Linked DNA regions of Homo sapiens. The protein of the gene in region 1 binds, or shares a complex with, the protein of each later gene. Each region holds a gene or a part of one and is shown in the gene's direction. Other genes may lie near its edges.

Region 1 (6,981 bases):
CTCAGCCTCCTGAGTAGCTGGGATTACAGGTACATGCCACCATGGCTGGCTAATTTTTGTATTTTAGTAGAGACGGGGTTTCACCATGTTGGTCAGGCTGGTCTCGAGCTCCTGACCTCGTGATCCGTCCACCTCGGTCTCCCAAAGTGCTGAGATTACAGGCGTGACCCACCGCACCTGGCCGAGAATCTCTTAAATAGAAAATAACAGTAAGATTATTCACTGTAGTACTGTAAATAATGAGAAAAAAAGAAACAAAGTCTCTATCAACAGTATAACGTACAAAGAAATTTTTATGTATTTATAAAGCTGACAACAATTCAGTGAAAATCAATGAACTCAGCTACAGGCATCAACAAGTGTGCATTGGAAAAATCCTGTTGAGTGCAAAAAAGTAAGTCTTGGAAGAAAACATATAACATGATTCAATTCATATATAAGTTAAATGGGCAAAACCCATCGTATAGCTTGTTAAATTTTTTTTTTATTATCACACCTGGTCCTGAGAAGGTAGCAGGAGTAATGTAATGCTTCTGAAGTGGGATCCAAGGTAGAGAGGGTTCCAAGAACCTAGAGTCATGTTCAAAGACCTCCTGACTTCATTGGCCTCTTTTCATTCAGGATAATTTTATTGGTTGCATTTATTCAGGGGCTGTGCACTACTCACAGGAAACAGCAGAATTCATCAGGATGCTGTCCAGTGGCTCTGACCATGTCTGGATCCCAGATCCCTTTGAGAATCCAATGAAGTTCAATGTTAGATTCTTTAAGTTTGTACAGTTATGGAACTAGTTTTAAAAACTGGCCCAGAACTTTGCAAATCAGAGGTTCTGGAGCATTTTGCAGTGGGGTGGAAAAGCATAATGTGTAATTAATATTTTGCTTTCCACATGTATGGGTTCTTTTAAAACATCTAAACATACCTTTTACATCTTTGGCTCACGAAACTGCCCATCCACTCTGAATGAACCGTAACACATTCCAAATGAGAAGGATACAAAATAATGAGATAAGTGCAAAAGAATAGAATGAATTGCATCCAGAAAGATCAAAATAGGGGTAGGAATGTAAAGACATTTGGACCTTTTAGGGTCAGATGAGAGTCATCAGAAAAAGCTTCTAGAGAAAAATATGGGGATAAAGAGACTCTGCAGCTAAGATGTGAGGTGTCCCAGGCCTGGAAGAGGGAGAGAGCTTATGTCCCCTTCCTCCAAGCATGAAGCCAACCTCCTTCCTTGTCCACCCAGCACAGGTATGGGTTTAAGAACCTTCACCAAGCATGCGTCTCAAGACACGCTGATATCTTGAAATGTCTGAAATATGGCTATAGTCATTTTCCTACTGTATCTTTTAATCATCCCCAAATATCAACATGGATCCAAATATTTGACCCTGTAGTTTTTCTAACACCAAGTACAGGGAAGCCAGTGAAGTCTCAGTTAATGTTTTTATGCTCAAGAATGTAAAGAACTAGAACTCCGCAATGTGGGATGCATGTCTCTCCCCGTGACCTTTGAAACCAGTGTGCTCAGGGGTTGTAAGTACCACCACTTACACTGCTGTCCTGTGGCAGTTACACGCACATGCCTGCATTCAGAGTTTTGGAGTGTGCGTTGACATCTGTGTGTGTGTGAAGATAAATGGGTGCCTGTTTGGATGCAGGACATGATACAGGGCATTGCTGGTATGCTGTCAGAAACCTCATGTGAAAACGAACCACCCGAAGGACGGCTTCTGGCCCTTGGAGTCACTCACTCACTTGTGGGACTGTTCAGGGTATAATCTGTCTCCAGTCTACAATTGTCGTTTTACTATGGGAATAGAAAGTTTGAATCAAAATTGAACATTGAATCAAAATCAAAACTATTAAACAAATAGACAATTAACAACTACTAAACAAAATATGGTTCTTTCTATGGTAATTTAAAAAATGGCTGTAACATTGTACATTTTAGGAGGAAAAAGAATCAAAAGATGACTAGAAACCTAAGTGAGCCTGGAGAAAAAGTTAAGTGGAGACATTGTAGCTAAACGATGAGCATGAATATAGGAAAATTTAACCTAGAAACTGAGAAAGGATTCCAGTGAACCAAATATCTTGACACAGCCCTTGGAACACAGCACCAGGACGCGTGAGTAATGGTGTGCACGTCAGAAAGATACCAGAACTACCACCTCAGTGGGAAAAACATCCCCTGGGCTTGTCCGCAGGGCCTCTCTGGCTGCACCCCGGCTGCTACTGTCACTAGTTAGAATGGAAAATGTGATGAACCTGATTTGTCTTTCCTAATCTGGACACACAATCGATTCTACCATTTTTATTTTCAGGACCAAGGCATTTGGCGTTTTTTGTGTGCCTAGTAATGTTGTTTGCCGAGTGTATTAGTCAGGGTTCTCTAGAGGGACAGAACTAATAGGGGATGGAGATATATTTCTGAGTTTATTAAGTATTAACTCACACGATCACAAGGTCCCACAATAGGCTGTCTGCAAGCTAAGGATCGAGGAGAGCCAGTCCAAGTTCCCCGACTGAAGAACTTGGAGTCCCATATTCAAGGACAGGAAGCATCCAGCATGGGAGAAAGATAGGCTGAAAGTCTAGGCCAGTCTCGTCTTTTCACGTTTTTCTGCCTGCTTTATATTCTAACCGTGCTGGCGGCTGATTAGATGGTGCCTAGCTAGATTAAGGGTGGGTCTACCTTTCCCAGCCCACTGATTCAAATGTTAATCTCCTTTGGCAACACCCTCACAGACACACCCGGGATCAATACTTTGCATCCTGCAATCCAATCAAGTTGACAGTAAGTATTAACCATCACACCAAGCTTTTGCTGGAGCCTCTTGATGACAATTTTGATTGAGTCAGAAGGATGAATTTCGCAGAGATGTTGGTTATATTAACAACTCATTGCACAGATGGAGGACCTGAGGTCCACATCCAGCTACAAATTTCTGCCTGCCTCCTGCCTCCAGGCTGATCTGGGGACGTGTTGGCCTCTCAGCATTATTGCCCATGCCCTAGTCTGGTAGAAGAGTGGTTTAAAAGTGTGACTGTTTTATTCTTCATAAGAATCAGGCTGCCTTGGTTGAAATTGTGGCCCCATCACTTTGCAACTTTGTGGCCTCTGGCAAGCTATGGCACTTCACTGACCCATATATGTGATGGAGATAATGATACGGTTATTACAGGAGCACACTTGATGATAGGTGTAAAGCACTCAGTACAATGCCTGTTTGTAGGAAGCATCTAATAAATTCTAGTTGCCAGTATAACTAAGCACTTGCCCTATTTTTCAAATGCTATTTTAGCCAGATCAAATAGGTAGGAAAAAGCCTGTCAATCATGAAGTTTATACTTTCCTGTTTCTAAAAAGGTACACTTCTAAAAATTTATATAATTCATTTATAGCTATTAACTTAAACTTGGAAAGTTTGGATATTTGGTCTGTCTTCACAAGTGTTTATCTGAGCCCTACCTCTCAAATTAACATGTATCACCATTGATGTGCATTATGTTGATTCTTATACCTATTATATGCATGTGTGAAACTAAGCCCCATAAAAACAGAATTTAGGCATTCCTGCTGAAAGGAAGTGAATTGAAGGGAAGAGAAGCAGAGCCTTTGCAAAGAGAAAATTGTCCTATCTCTCAACCAGTGTCAGAATGTGGAAATGTTTACAAAATGCTCATTAAAAGAAATAGGGATTGCAAGATAGAAACAAATTCTGGTGCACAAGTTTACACTAGGGAGATAAGAAAGGCTAGGCCCCTATAGGGGATTTTGTTATCCAATTACTGCAACCTGACTTTTAGGGGGAGAGGAAGAGTGGTAGGGGGAGGGAGAGAGAGAGGAAGAGTTTCCAAACTTGTCTCCAGTGACAGGAGACATTTACGTTCCACAAGATAAAACTGCCACTTAGAGCCCAGGGAAGCTAAACCTTCCTGGCTTGGCCTAGGAGCTCGAGCGGAGTCATGGGCTCTCTGGTCCTGACACTGTGCGCTCTTTTCTGCCTGGCAGCTTACTTGGTTTCTGGCAGCCCCATCATGAACCTAGAGCAGTCTCCTCTGGAAGAAGATATGTCCCTCTTTGGTGATGTTTTCTCAGAGCAAGACGGTGTCGACTTTAACACACTGCTCCAGAGCATGAAGGATGAGTTTCTTAAGACACTAAACCTCTCTGACATCCCCACGCAGGATTCAGCCAAGGTGGACCCACCAGAGTACATGTTGGAACTCTACAACAAATTTGCAACAGATCGGACCTCCATGCCCTCTGCCAACATCATTAGGAGTTTCAAGAATGAAGGTAAGTTTTTGCTGATGAAATTTTGCTAGGATTTTTTTCAAGACACAATAAGTAAATTTACAATGCATGGGAATGATATAGGTAAGGGTAAATACATCTATATAAGGATGTTAAATACATATGGATACACAAAAACAAGGCACATTTTGTTCTATACCAATTATATAGTCATTTCAGGAACCTCGAAAAATACTTACAAACATCTTTTAATCCAAAGCCACAAAACATCTATCAATTTGACATCATAATTGGGTCCTTTTAAAAAATGTTAATTTGAACACCAAGTAATACAAAGAATTAATGTTGGTCTACTGCCGTACCTTTGTCATTTTCCAAATAGGCCTTGATTGCCATATGGGCTTTTAATTAACTAAAAAATTTCTCAACTTCTACTTAGAATAAAAAGGGTAAAAACAGTCAAAAAACATCAAATTGTGATTTGTGTTTTGTTCAAACTTTTGATAAGTTTTTATTTTGTGACCTTATTTAAGAAATGTTCAAACAGGATGGAAATATATTTTAAAGATTCTTCCTAAGGCTGTGTTGTTTGATGTGTCATGTACATCCTTAAAGCACTGTTTACAGTTTCCAGGAAGTGTAGATGGCCCATTAATCATCCAGCTCATCATTTCCGTCTTTATAAAGAGCAACGTACAAGCTTTGAATTATTGGTGGGAAAAGTGTGTTTTCTTCTCTTAGGTCTTTAAATTTGGTAACTAAATCTAATGAGCTAGCAAGTTAATGTTTTTGTTTGTTTGTTTGTTTGTTTGTTTTTTGGTTAATATGGTCCTAGTAGGAAAAAAAACCCCTGATATCTAGATATCTATAGTAGAAGCTGAAGGTCCAAAGGAACTAATTTAATTTTTGCCAGTTATGCTTTTATAGTCACTAACCAGGTATAAAAGAAGCTTCCCGTTAATATTGGCCAGATGTTCTTGAAAGAAGAAAGGTAATAGTGAAGAAATAGCTCAGGATTTGGGATTTTGAGAGCTAGTTGGCTTAGTGGTTGTGAATAATTAGCTGATGCCTCAGAGCCTCAATTTCCTCATCTATAAAGTGGGAGTAATAATACCTACATAACATAGTTGAGTGACTCAAAGGAGGTTACAGATAAGAAAGCACTCCATTTACTATGAAGTGCTGATCAAACTTTAGTGACTACTAATGAGTTACTTAATATTCTAGGTACTGGAATAAATGTTGAGTAGGTATTCCTTAGTCCCTAAGATATTATCTCCCTTTAAAATTGAGTTGGCTGCCAAAATTTATAATTCATAATATCTTTCTCATGGAAATGGCAAGTTGAGATTACAGATTGCTTTTGGAGGTGAGTCTGAATTGAAAATGAACAACTTCCTCCTGTAAGAACCCTCCCTAATACTTCTCAGCACTGAGCCCTAAGTGTCTGGCTCAGGGTGTGGGTGAGAAAATGTTGTTTGCATCCCCTGGAAAACTAGAAACGTTTTCCGTTCTCACTTCTCTCATAGAGTATCTGGATGATCCAGGTCAGGATGTGGAGTTTACTGTGCTTATTATTACTGGAGATTATTGAGGGCAGGAACACATCTCTTAGTAAACAACCCAGCCGCCAGCACCTCTGCCAGTCTGCAGGAAATGTGCAGCCTGAGGACAGAAATCGCACAGGACATGCCCTGTTGGCTACTATTGCCTCTCTTCTGACTCTTTGGATCTGCTTAGTGCAGCTCCCTAGGAGAGAAAGACCAAAAAAACTCCAAACCTACCCCATCTTGGGAAAAAAAAGTGCCACCTCCAAGGTGAAAAAAGCGTGCTCCTTTATCACCTTGTCATTTGGGGAAATCAGTTATCTGCATCAAGGCTTGATTTATTCTGGTGCAAAACGAGTAGAGAATCAATACCTGCATTATGGGGTCATTGTGAGAACCAGAGAAGATCATGCTTGCAAAGCACCTGGCATGAGAAATTTGTCAACAAACATTCGTTCTCTTGCCCTGAAATGTAACTCTTCCATCTATTGCTTACTGCATTTGCACATGCACAGAACTTCACAGTGAACTTACTTTTTCAAAACAGCTTTATTGAGGTATATTTGACTTATAAAAATATGACATATAAAAATATTGATGTATAAAAGTATAATCGCACATATTTAAAGTGTATAATTTGAAAGGTGTTGACATATGTAACATTCATTGAAACCATCACCACAATCAAGATCATGAATATATCCATTAAAACCAAAAGCTTCCTTGTATACTTTGTAATGCCTTCCTCCCACTACAGTGAGCTCTTATTTTATACTTTTCTCCTGGGTAGAGCAACCAGCCTACTCTTCCATGTTCCCTGTCCATGGGGAGTCAAGTCTCTTCCCTTCTTAGAGTGGAAGAATAACTCCCAAGCCCAACCCAAGAGCTTGATGATGGATTAAGGTCATATGTCACGCCCATAAATCAATTTAGTCTGGTGCCTAGAATCATCAACTAATCAATATTTTTAAAGCACTACCTCTGTTTAAGCCATCATAGTAGGATAGAGACATAGAAGGGAGTTTTGAGCCATTCAAACCAGGAGGATGGCAATCTAGTTGGGAAAATCCATTCATAAAAAGATGGCTGAAATATAAGGACGTAAATGACAAGGATCAAAGGAGATATAAAGTGATCAAATGATTTCAGAGGGGAGAGGAGGGAACTTT
Region 2 (7,000 bases), about 130 Mb from region 1:
CAGTATTACCAAACATTGCATAACTACATCTAGTTAAACAATGAACAGCTCTTTCATAGGGCAACTCATTCTGTTTTAGACAGGTCTGTTTATAAGCCATGCTTTTCTGTATGCTCAACTAAAGGCTCTTATCCTTGAAGATACACTGATTGGAACTGGTTATTTGATGTGAAGACAGCTATCATATCCTCCCAAGTTTTCTTTTTTTTCCTCATCAGATGCTTTCAGTTCTTTCTACCCATCACAGTTCAGAGGTCTCAAACCTTCATAGTTGTACTTGCTCTCTTTTGGATATGCTCTAGTTTGTGGCCATCCATCCTAAAGGGTATTTGCTCTAGATGCGATCTGACCCACAGAATGGAACTTAACACATAAAATGTTTACATGTTTGTGATAGCCCTGTGATTTACCTATGTGTGTTCCCATTCCATTCTGCAAGTGAGTAAACTTGGGCTCAGATAGGAGAAGAAACTTTCCTAAGGTCATATGTTAAGTGGAAGAAGTGAGCTTCAAGTCCTATTCAGATTTAACTGCCTCCAAAGCCATGCTATTTTCATTAATAAAAATACCAATATTGATAAGTGTAACTACCATTTATTGCGTAGATAATATATGCTTTTTTAAAAAAAAACTTTAATTTTTTTTTTTTTTTTAAAGAAACAGAGTCTCACTTCATCACCCAAGCTGGAGTACAGTGATACAATCATGGCTCACTGCAGCCTCAAACTCCTGGGCCCAAGCAATCCTCCTGCCATAGCCCCCTGAGTAGCTGGGACTACAGGTGCATGCCACCATGCCTGACTAATTTTTTTTTTTAATTTGTTTTAATGTCTGGCATTTTGCTATGTTGTCCAGGCTGGCCTTGACCTTGTGGCCTCAAGTGATCCTCCTGCAGCAGCCTCCCAAAGTGTTGGGATTATAGGCATGAGCCACTGTGCCCAGCCAGATAATATATTCTTGACGTTGTGTTAAGTACTTAGACTACCATCTAAATCTTACAGCTAACTTGGGAAATACAGAGTACTATTTTTATAAATGAGGAAATTGAGGATTTAAAACCAAATGTGATTCTAAAACTGTTAGATTCTAAGACTCTTGATATTATACTATCCTGTCTAATCTGTTTCATGGTATTGTTGATGTTTTAATAATTAGGAGCACATCTACTTGGTGTTTTAGTGTTCCAAATCTATACAGAATAGTCTGTATGATTAAAAAATATAATTTGTAATTATCACATTTATTACTAATTTTTTCTTTCATTTCCTTTGATGCAAAAACATTACTAATTTGATTATACATGGGTACAGCCTTTCTAAAGGGCAGTCTGTCAGTATTTAACAAAATACTTTTTTAAAAAAAAATGACATTTCAAAATTTGTTTTCTTTTAGGTCCACCTCATTCATTTAACCGAGATGAGACAATAATCATTGCTTTGGCATCAGTCTCTGTATTAGCTGTTTTGATAGTTGCCTTATGCTTTGGATACAGAATGTTGACAGGTAAAAATTACCATTTTTTGTCCTATTGTTTATTAAACATGCAATTTAATCAATTTATTTGCTCCTTTTAAATTCCGTATGTTAAAAAAAATAGTCTCAAAGTTATGCAAAATACACCCAGCCTCAATAGTATCACGTATGGACAGTATTGTTTCATTTAAATTATCAGTCACTACCCCTTTCCATGCCACTGGATTATTTTGAAGCAAATCACAGATATCATATATCTGTAAATATTTAATTAGATATTATATATCTATAAATATTATCTCTACAATACAAGAGCTTTTTTTAAAATTTATTTTATTTTATTTTATTTTATTTTTGAGACGGAGTCTCGCTGTCGCCCAGGTTGGAGTGCAGTGGCGCGATCTCGGCTCACTGCAGGCTCCGCCCCCCAGGGTTCACGCCATTCTCCTGCCTCAGCCTCCTGAGTAGCTGGGACTACAGGTGCCCACCTCCTCGCCCGGCTAATTTTTTGTATTTTTAGTAGAGACGGGGTTTCACCGTGTTAGCCAGGATGGTCTCGATCTCCTGACCTCGTGATCCGCCCGCCTTGGCCTCCCAAAGTGCTGGGATTACAGGCGTGAGCCACTGCGTCCGGCCAATACAAGAGCTTTAAGAATACATATCCATAATACCATTTTCACATCTGAAAAAATAACAGTAATTCCTCAGTATCATCAAATGTCAAGTTGGTTCTAATATACTTTAGGTTTGATGGACTGTTTAGGAAATCAGCGTTCATTGATTCATTTGAATAACTTCTATACAATCTTCTTTAAAGTTTTTATAATATTGCTTAGGGTTTTAAACTTTTAAAGTAAGTCATCATGGGAGTGTCTCCCAGAATTTGGCTTTCATGCTATTCTGCATTCATCTTAATTTATAGGTATTACCTAGTTTAGTAAATAGCTTTACTCCTATTGACATTAGGCATAAATCTTGCTGCTAATCTTTCTGCAGCTCTTCTTTTTAAGTGTAATATTATAAAAAGTGTAAAAAGATATTCATTTTAAGAAAACCATATATTAGTAACCTGTTTCCTGTTCTTATAGGAGACCGTAAACAAGGTCTTCACAGTATGAACATGATGGAGGCAGCAGCATCCGAACCCTCTCTTGATCTAGATAATCTGAAACTGTTGGAGGTAAGTTTGCCGTTAGATTATGGACTGTTGTTTCTACTGTGATACTAGACCTGGAACAGTGACTTCATTCAATCATTAAGACATTCATTCATTTATTTAACCCTATTTACTAAATTACAATTTTTTGTCAAGGCCTATTCTAGGCACTAGGAACATAGGTGAACAATGTCTCCTGGGGCTTCTATTTGAATTGGGGAGTCTACAGACAGGTACAGGAATGTATAATATAATTGCAAGTAGTAGTAAGTGCTATGAAGAAAAGTACAGTGGATAAGAAAGTGATGAAAAGGGGGTTATTAAAGAAAATATGGGCCAGGCGCAGTGGCTCATGCCTGTAATCCCAGTACTTTGGGAGGTTGAAGCTGGTGGATCACCTGAGATCAGGAGTTCAAGACCAGCCTGACCAACATGAAGAAACCCTGTCTCTGCTAAAAATACAAAATTAGCCAGGCATGGTGGTTCATGCCTGTAATCCCAGCTACTCAGGAGGCTGAGGCAGGAGAATTGCTTGAACCCGGGAGGCAGAGGTTGCGGTGAGCCGAGATCGCACCATTGCACTCTAGCCTGGGCAACAAGAGCGAAACTCTGCCACAAAAAAAAAAAAAAGAAAGAAAGAAAAAGAAAATATGGCCAGGTGCAGTGGCTCACGCCTGTAATCCTATCACTTTGGGAGGCTGAGGCAGGGGGATCACTTGAGGTCAGGAGTTCAAGACCAGCCTGGCCAACATGGTGAAACCCTATCTCTACTAAAATACAAAAATTAACTGGGAGTGGTGGCGCCCGCCTGTAGTCCCAGCTGCTTGGGAGGCTGAGGCTAGCGAATTGCTTGAACCCAGAAGGTGGAGGTTGCAATGAGCCAAGATCACGCCACTGCACTCTAGGTGACAGAGCAGGAATCCGTCTCAAAAAATAAAAAAGAAAAAGAAAATATATTTAGAAAGAGGTTGACCTTTGATTAGAGATTTGTACAGGGTATGAGAATAAAGACATGAAAGTTTGAGAAGAGTGTGCCACAAGGGATCCATAATAGACAACAAATAAATACTCCTTGTCTGCATATATTACATATTTTTATAGATACATAAGGCTCTTTTATATAGAATTTAAGTTTCATTTGGTGATATCTCAGAAGCTACATTAAAAGTGTTACCATGATGAGTGTTTTTATATTTATTAAGAATGACTTGAAAACTATGGTCCCCAAACCAGAGACTATTAAATAATAGATGTGATAGATTTGACTATATAAAAAATTGTAAGAACTTTCTGTTTTGGGAGAGACATACCATAAACAAAGATAAAAGCCAAATTTGAAAAATAAATTTCAACATTTCAACATATAAGGGAAAACTTGATAAAGAACTGATATAAATCAAGATGAAAGAAACATTCTATAGCAAATGGACAAAAAGGCTGAGTGCTGTGACTCACACCTGTAATCCCAGCTCTTTTGGGAGGCCAAAGTGGGTGGATTGCTTGAGCCCAGGAGTTCAAGACAAGTCATGGGCAACATGGTGAAACCCCATTTATTTTGTAAAAAATACAAAAATTAGCTGGGTGTGGTGGCACATGCCTGTAGTCCCAGCTACTCGGGAGGCTGAGGTTGAAGGATCACTTGAGCCCAAGAGGTAGAGGTTGTGGTTAGCCTAGGTGACAGAGACCCTGTCTCAAAAAAAAAAGGACAAAAGGTATTAACTGCCAATTCACAAAAGAAGTAAGTGTGGCTAAGAAATGTACAGTAAGATGTCCAATTTACAAGGCTGAAAGAAATACTAGTTAACCCATGGAATTTTAGCCATGATTAAGTGATAGAAACACTTCCAAACATTGCTGAATTAACTATATATTGATATAACCTTTTTAAAGGACACTTTGTATAATTTTGATCTGGAAACAGTGTATGAAACACAACATATATCCTTAAATAAATGATGGTAAATCCCCAACCTGTTTTAATAAAAAGTAAAAGCAATCCCCAGAAGCCAAAAATAACGAGAATGGGTTACATTTTGCTGGTTCTTTGGGTGTTGAGTAATTTTTTTGTATTCTGGATATTGTGAATATTGTATTGTGGAACACTGAACTCAAAAATTAGCTGGGTATCATGGCACGCGCCTGTAATCCTAGCTACTCAGGAGGCTGAGGCAGGAGAATCACTTGAACCCGGGAAACGGAGGTTGCAGTGAGCTGAGACCGTGCCACTGCACTCCAGCCTGAGTGAAAGAGCAAGACTATCTCAATTAAAAAAAAAAAAAAAGATTTTTTTTTGTTGTTTTAGTAAGCAATAAACTTGGTTGAACACATACCACAAATCTGTTTGGGGCAGAAGCTCAAATCTCAGTTCAGTTATTTTATCTTTTTTTTTTTTTTTTTACTCTGTCATCCAGGCTGGAGTGCAAGGCATGGTCTGGGGTCACCGCAACCTCTGCCTCCCGGTTTCAAGTGATTCTCCAGCCTCAGCCTCTATGTAGGGATCTTTATGCAAGTATTTAAGTCTCCACAAAAGTGACTACAGGCGCATGCCACCACGCCCAGCTAATTTTTGTATTTCTAGTAGAGATGGGGTTTTACTGTGTTGGCCAGGCTGGTCTCAAACTCCTGACCTCGTGATCCACCCGCCTCAGCCTCCCAAAGTGCTGGGATTACAGGCGTGAGCCACCACGCCCGGCCTCAGTTATTTTATCTTTAGCTGGAAACTCTCTTGTATATTCACTGGGCTTTCCTCTCTCTGAATTTCTCCTTTCTAGGGTTCTCCCCTCATTTTCTAGCAACTGTGGCTGTCCAAAATATGTCCTGAGTTTCCCAAGGCCAGAACAATTTTCTGTTCTTCTTTTTTCTTTTTTTTTTTTTTGAGACGGAGTCTCACTCGGTCACCCAGTCTGGAGTGCAGTGGCGCGACCTCGGCTCACTGCAAGCTCTGCCTCCCAGGTTCACGCCATTCTCCTGCCTCAGCCTCCTGAGTAAGTGGGACTACAGGCGCCCACCACCACGCCTGACTTTTTTTTTTTTTTTTTTTTTGTATTTTTTTAGTAGAGATGGGGTTTTACCGTGTTAGCCAGGATGGTCTCGATCTCCTGACCTCATGATCCACCCACCTCAGCCTCCCAAAGGGCTGGGATTACAGGCGTGAGCCACCGCGCCTGGCCTCTTTTTTTTTTTTTTTTTTTTTTTTTTAATTGAGACAGTCTTGCTCTTTCGCCCAGGCTGGAGTGCAGTGGCGCGGTCTCAGCTCACTGCAACCTCCGTTTCCTGGGTTCAAGTGATTCTCCTGCCTCAGCCTCCTGAGTAGCTAGGATTACAGGCGTGTGCCATGATACCCGGCTAATTTTTGTATTTTTAGTAGAGACAGGGTTTCACCACTTTGGCCAGGCTGGTCTCGAACTCCTGACCTCAAGTGATCTGCCCACCTCAGCCTCCCAAAGTGCTGAGATTACAGGCATGAGCCACCACACCCAGCCTAGAATGGTTTTCTTTAGCAATTTTAGTTCCACTGCACAGTGCTGATTTCAGCCTGCCCTCAGGATAAAAGTCATAAAAATGGGTAGCTTGCCCCATACCACTTTTTTCTCAAAGCTTTAATGCCTCTCAAGATCTATCTGCCTTTAGATCTTTCTTTTTTTTAAATTTTGTCCAGCATTTATAAATGTTCTCTATGGGCAGGCTGGGTCTGGTAGGAGCTTCATCAGCCATACTAGAACAGAATTTATTAATTTCTTGATAATGGAATAAACTGTAAGCAACAGAGAGCTGTAGCATTCTGTTTAAATTTGTACTTTATTATTTAGTAAATTTGATTGTTCAATTGTGATATTAATACCTTGCTTTCTTTAAAACACTTGCAGCTGATTGGCCGAGGTCGATATGGAGCAGTATATAAAGGCTCCTTGGATGAGCGTCCAGTTGCTGTAAAAGTGTTTTCCTTTGCAAACCGTCAGAATTTTATCAACGAAAAGAACATTTACAGAGTGCCTTTGATGGAACATGACAACATTGCCCGCTTTATAGTTGGAGATGAGAGAGTCACTGCAGATGGACGCATGGAATATTTGCTTGTGATGGAGTACTATCCCAATGTAAGTTCTTCATAGAAAATAAACTGAGGCCAGGTGTGGTGGCTTATGCCTGTAATCCCAGCACTTTTGGAGGCTAAGGCAGGTGGATCACTTGAGGCCAAGAGTTCAGGACCAGCCTCGCCAACATGGCAAAACTCCCGTCTCTACTAAAAATACAAAAATTAGCCGGGTATGATGGCACACATCTGTAATTCCAGCTACTTGGGAGGCTGAGGCATGAGAATTGCTTGAACCCGGTAGGCGGAGGTTGCAGGGAGCCGAGATTGTACAGCCG

Evidence for each region. Proteins that work in one complex are often made in the same cells at the same time.
Region 2: the proteins of BMP10 (region 1) and BMPR2 are in contact, whole or in part, in a crystal structure (PDB 7PPA), measured with the Homo sapiens proteins. Residues at the interface, in NP_055297.1 of Homo sapiens: Tyr329, Lys333, Asp338, Ser339, Trp340, Ile342, Ala343, Pro344, Pro345, Gly346, Tyr347, Glu348, Glu395, Pro396, Ile397, Ser398, Ile399, Leu400, Leu402, Val407, Tyr409, Phe411, Ala417; in NP_001195.2 of Homo sapiens: Asp38, Ser64, Tyr67, Leu69, Lys81, Cys84, Trp85, Ser86, Ile88, Gly89, Asp90, Pro91, Gln92, Glu93, Thr103, Thr104, Pro105, Pro106, Ile108, Tyr113, Phe115.

What each region holds. Positions count from the first base shown.
Region 1 is NC_000002.12:68,868,351-68,875,331, reverse strand, and holds the start of BMP10 (bone morphogenetic protein 10 preproprotein), read left to right. Parts: upstream 1-3,934; 5' UTR 3,935-3,973; coding exon 3,974-4,307; intron 4,308-6,981. UniProt on the Homo sapiens protein: Required for maintaining the proliferative activity of embryonic cardiomyocytes by preventing premature activation of the negative cell cycle regulator CDKN1C/p57KIP and maintaining the required expression levels of cardiogenic factors such as MEF2C and NKX2-5.
Region 2 is NC_000002.12:202,512,327-202,519,326, forward strand, and holds part of BMPR2 (bone morphogenetic protein receptor type-2 precursor), read left to right. Parts: intron 1-1,392; coding exon 1,393-1,503; intron 1,504-2,561; coding exon 2,562-2,653; intron 2,654-6,495; coding exon 6,496-6,726; intron 6,727-7,000. UniProt on the Homo sapiens protein: On ligand binding, forms a receptor complex consisting of two type II and two type I transmembrane serine/threonine kinases.